Linked DNA regions of Homo sapiens: region 1 is linked to region 2. Evidence: fine-mapped expression QTL. Tissue or cell type: blood mononuclear cells. Region 2 holds a variant in brackets; the other region holds the start of a gene. All regions are shown on one strand. Distances are between the middles of the regions.

Evidence for each region. PIP is the estimated chance that this variant, and not a neighbour inherited with it, causes the effect.
Region 1: it holds the start of RPP40, and the variant in region 2 is fine-mapped to the expression of RPP40 in blood mononuclear cells (TOPMed, PIP 0.97).

What each region holds. Positions count from the first base shown.
Region 1 is chr6:5,002,608-5,005,360 of GRCh38, reverse strand. RPP40 (ribonuclease P/MRP subunit p40) reads left to right here and starts at 1,324. Exons shown (of 8, transcript NM_006638.4): 1 at 1,324-1,481. The coding sequence starts at 1,359. It overlaps LYRM4-AS1 (LYRM4 antisense RNA 1), which reads right to left and starts at 1,545. Exons shown (of 4, transcript NR_126015.1): 1 at 1,402-1,545. RefSeq lists silencers at 1,214-1,343, 1,474-1,723.
Region 2 is chr6:5,031,076-5,033,828 of GRCh38, reverse strand. The region is part of intron 2 of LYRM4-AS1 (LYRM4 antisense RNA 1); the gene reads right to left. It also overlaps a transcript of LYRM4 not described here. Among named protein-coding and RNA genes, the nearest start is that of RPP40, 28 kb to the right of the region's middle. The variant A/G (reference allele first, on the strand shown) is at 1,242.

The sequences.
Region 1 (2,753 bases), 28 kb after region 2:
TTTTTTTTTTGAGATGGGGTCTTACTATATTGTCCAGGGTGGTCGTGAACTTCTGAGTTCAAGTGATCCTCCCACCTCAGCCTCCCAAAGTGCTGGGACTACAGGCGTGAGCCACTGTGCTCGGCCAGATTACTGATGTTTATAATGGCAGATGACTTTCCAGCCTTGTCTTAGTTTTATTTTTATTTTTGGAGATGGGGTCTCACTATATTGCCCAGGCTGGTCTTGAACTCCTAAGCTCAAGTGATCCTCCCACCTCAGCCTCCCAAAGTGCTGGGATTACAGGCATGACCCACTGTGACTGGCTTAGTTTTAAATTCTTAATTATTTACCTTGTAAACTACTTAATTCCATTTCTTCCACATCTCATAGAAAAACTGATGTTCCAGGAAGATGTATCACCAATATTCTGCTGTTTTGTATCCTGCCAGTGCAGAATTGGGGCTGTGCCTCTCTAGTTTGAGAAGCATGTAGTAACATACTTGATTTTGCCCTGATCAGTAACGTACCGCATGCTGGGAGCCGCAGTCTCTTAACCGCTCCAAGCCCGTGACAGAAAAACGAAATGGAAAAATGACTTAGGAGAATTATCACTATTAACCCCCAGAAACAACACATTATTAAAAGCGGTTCTGAAGGGCTATTTAAAAGGGAACTCAATAGTAGTTTCAAAGGAGTCCTATTGTAAGGCAAAAATTGTGCTTTACCTTCCCGCACAACCTTCCCTAATGTTTTGGGAAGGACTGATACAAACTTTTAGTCCTGTTGGCCTGTGTTAATAATGGCCAAGAGGTCCCCAATGGGTAACAGAGTCCTGTGAACCAAACAGTGTGAGAAGTCAGAAAGCAGCTGGGTGTGGCCCCCAAAGCAGCTTAGGGGGTTACTTAACTGTGCGGCTACATTTCTTGACCATATACTAAAGGAACTGGGCCTTTCCATGCGATGTTTTCCTTTTATAACGGTGGCAGGAAGCGGTCCCTCTGAGGGGCCTGACCGAGGTATGCGCCGGCGCCAGGCTGGGGTCCAAGGGGCGCTCCGAGGCGGGGCCCACAGAGAGGGTTTAGGGCAATTCCAAGGGATGGCGGGGACGGAGGAAAAGTGGCGTTGAAAAGGCAAGAGCCAGGTTCCCAGCCACTGGGACAGTGAATTTACAGCTTCAGACATCCACCAAAGAGCGGCTGCGTGGGCTCCTAAGAAGTCTAAGAACTGCTCAGAAATCCAGCGCCGCCATCCCCACTCCACCGCCGCCAGGGGCGCACAGCAGCGGGTATGCGGCCGGAGGGAAGGGGCGGGGCGGGAGGAAGGGGCGGGGCGTGCCCCGCCAGCGGAGGCCGGGAGGACCAGGAACCCAGGAGAGCATGGCCACGCTGCGCCGGCTTCGGGAGGCGCCGCGGCACTTACTGGTTTGCGAGAAATCCAACTTCGGCAACCACAAGTCGCGCCACCGGCATCTTGTGCAGACGCACTACTATAACTACAGGGTGAGTCCGGCTGTCCTCGGCTTTTCGGGCCGTGCTCAGTCCCCGCGTGCGAGAGAGGTTTGGGGAGAGTGCTAGGCTTCGCGGGGCGGGGCCGCCGGCGGTACGCGGAGGGGCGGGGCCCTCGCCCGGCTTGCTGGGAGTTGTAGTCTCTTAACTGCTCTAAGCCAGTGGCTTGCAGGGCTACAGGACTACAACTCCCAGGATGCGCCGGGCGTGGGGGCGGTACCCAGTCTGGAGGGAGCTGTTGTCAGGGGCGTTCTGGCTGCTCACTCGTGTCAACCCGCCGAACTGGGAGTGAGTCCAGGGAGGGATTCGAGGTTCAGGGCCGGGACCAGGGAGTTAGGCTGTGGGGCAGCCACGTGCACCTCGCTTTTTCCCCAAATCAGGGCGGGTCTCGCGCCTCCTCCCCACCACTGCCTCCTCCCCAGCTTGAATCCCTCTCCCACCTGCGTACCTGTGGATCTCACCAGAGCATCCTGCCTAGGCTCGGCCCAGGAAGCGACTGATTTTCCTTTTTTTTTTTTTTTTTTTTTTAGACGGAGTTTCGCTCTGTCGCCCAGGCTGGAGTGCAGTGGCGCGATCTCGGCTCACTGCAGGCTCCGCCTCCCGGGTTCACGCCATTCTCCTGCCTCAGCCTCCCGTGTAGCTGGGTCTACAGGCGCGCGCCACCACGCCCGGCTAATTTTTGTATTTTTAGTAGAGACGAGGTTTCACCGTGTTAGCCAGGATGGTCTCGATCTCCTGACCTCGTGATCCGCCCGTCTCGGCCTCCCAAAGTGCTGGGATTACAGGCGTGAGCCACCGCGCCCGGCCGAAGCGACTGATTTTCTAAATTGGTTGTTGGAACTAATTTGATATCTGAGAGACTTCAAGAAACTAACCTTATCATGGGGGATTAAACATTTTACACTTTAAATGGATCAGCTTAATAACTCAGGTTTGACTGAGCAGTGTTTCAGAGATGTTAAGTGGTGACCTGATCAGTCAGAACAGGCTGGTGTTTGAGCCTTGGGACAGTGATGACTTTTACAATGTGGCAACATTTGAAGCCTGCCCTGTTTTTAACACCTATTTTGGATGTCAAGCTCATCACAGCAGTCAGGGATGTATACTTTAACTCGCCTGTTGCATTTTTCTGTCTCGAAAATGAAAACATACAGGAGCACCATTGCTTGCACATAGATTCTTAGTAATTGGATGTCCATAAATTAATTCCTTATGCCCCGACAGATAGTTTGTTTCATTCCAGGATAACACCAGGGTAAACAAATC
Region 2 (2,753 bases):
TGAAGAGGTGAATTTGCAGGTATGGAATCTAGAAATAATGAGATCGGACTGTAAGGCTGGAGACGAAGATGGAGAGGCTGCTGCCAAGTGACAGGCTGGCTCTTGTCCCAGAAGCTGTGGACTGCCACTGGAGTGTTTCAAGCAAGGGAGTGGCTTGATCTGTGTTGTAGGAACAGCACCTTTTCTCAACTTAAAAGTGTGGCTTGAAGAGAGGAAGACGGGAGACTGGTTAGGAGATGGATGTATCCAGGTGAGGATGAGGGTGGGTGAACGGAGCCAGGGATAGAGGTCCTCAGGGGAGCTGACCTGAGACCCCTGTGAGTCTCGGGTCCTGGCAATGGGGCGGCGGTGAGTGGTGAGGGGGAGGCATTGAGGACAGCGCCCGGGGTCCCCGGCTGGGGCACATGCTGGGGTGTAGGGCAGTGGTCAAGGGCCCTAGCCTTGCAGTCAGACACCCCTGGCGGGCTGTGTGGCTTAGACATGCTCCTCCACTTCCCTAAGCCTAGTTGTTTCATGTCTAGCATAAAGATTCCGTGTGGCAGGAAGAACACACCCCCGGGAGTGATTCTGAGATTGAAATGAGTGCTGGTGCTTTTCACCTAAACAAGGAAAACGGGGAGAGAAGCAGTATGTGGGGTGGGAGGGAGAAGAGTCTGTCTGGGCGTGGGGATTTGGACGTGCCTCTGGACACCCATGGACAAATATCCTGAGGCCATCTGATGTTTTCCGGGGGCCACGGGAGTGGGGGAGGGGAAGGTGGGGCGGAGACACAGACTTGGGCATTACCAGCAGGCAGGGGGCTGCTACCGCCATGAAGAGTGGGCAGTGCCAGGATCAGAGGGCCGGGGTAAAGCCTGCGGAATTCCCACATTTCAGAAGAGGCTGGGAAGGAGGTCAAGGAAGAGCAGCAGGAGGAGGAGAAAGCAGGAGGGTGTGGAGGGACGGGAGGCGGGGAGGAGGAATTCCAGGAGGGAGTGGCCGGGGTGACTGTTCTGAAAGCATGGACTGGAAGCCACAGCACATTTGGGCTGCAAGGAACCCGAGAGATCTTCTAGTCTAATCCTCTTTCAGTCTCCATCCCCGTCCGGATGAAGACAGCGAGATCCAAAAGTAAAGTCAGTTGTACTGTGACTTCCTAGCAGGATACCCTAACTCCTAATTCATAATAAAACTACAGACATTCTCAATTCAAAATTCTTCCTATTCAGTCACACTGGACTTTCTCCCAATGTGACAAAATT[A/G]TTGAGATTTTATTGACTTACTGAACAACTGTGGTCTTTGCCATGTACTAAGATACTGTGTAGTCAAACTGCGCCTCTGAAATCTATTTTTATTGTACATTTAACAAATTTTGCTGTAAACAATAAGTTTAAAAACAATAGTCATAACTCATTAAACTGTATCTTTTAATTTTAATATGTTATTATACCTCAATGAAACTCAGTTTTAAAAAACAGTGAATAAAAAGTTGAGCTATTAAAACTAAAAAGTAATTATTTGCTAGTTTGTATACACAGACCCAAGAAATAGAAATATAGGAATATTTGGAACTTGCTCCTTCTTACAGCCTTGAGGGAACCGCTTATCCCTTATTACGCCTTGGTTTCCCTCAATGAAACTAGAAAATATTACCTTGCAAGACGCTCATAGTTAATTAATACGTATGAAGCTCTTGAATCTAAATATTAAATACTTGATGATATTGTCTGGTAAATATTATCTAACTGCATTTATAAATACTAGCATTTTTACAGCCTAGTGGTAATTACAAAGTATAGCCCATTTAAAATGAATACAAATATGTGCATATATATTTTTCCTGTGAAAGTAGGAAAAGAAAGTTGAAATTATGCAAGAACAAAGTAGAAAAATATGCCTCTCATATAAGATTGAGTGTTTCCATTGATCAATATAATTTTTAAAATGTTGTGATGATTCTTTTTTTCACTTAATTGGCTATGTCATTTGCACTCTACCTAAGTGAGATATTAATAAATTGTATATGATGTAAATAACAGGAAACAAGAAGAACTGCTGGCCTTATTCATAGTTAATAAAGAGAACCAGATGATGAAATTGTCTGAAAATAAGCCATTTTGTTTATTAAAAAGTTACTTCTGCTCCAGGGATCCAAGTAATAGAGCTTTGTGTTTTCAGAGGGAATGTTGCCATAAATCAGGGTATCACAACCTCAGCACTACCGAGGTTTGGGGCAGCTGGGTAATTCCGTTGTGGGGGCTGTCCTGTGGGCTGTGGGAGGTTGAGCAGCACCCCTGGCCTCCACCCACTAGATGCCACTAGCACCCCCTCCCTCATTTGTGACAACCAAATGTCCCCAGGGGGCAAAATTGCCCTCAGTTGAGAAACACTCCTATAAATATCATGTCCATGCTGGGGTGGGTGTACTTTTACATGTACGGGGGACTGGCCCGTAGGTTTGGCGGTAAGTCCTGGGCTTCCAAATTGGCATTTCCCAGTAGCTGGGCTGATGTGACAGCCTTCGGTTGCTCGGGCCTCCAGGCAGAAAGTGGAGGTGCAACAGGGGCTGTTTGCACGCTGCCTTGGCAGAGTTGGGGTGACAGGCACATCTCATGTGTTCACAGACACTGCCAGGCCTTCTCAGAGCTCATGACTTGCCTCCCCTTTCCCTGCAGTTAGGGAGCCTTTTGTCTTGCCCTCAATTCTCCAAAATAACCCAAAAGGTTTCCTTTATCTTTAACTCTGTTATAAACATGTTGACACTTTGCCAAACA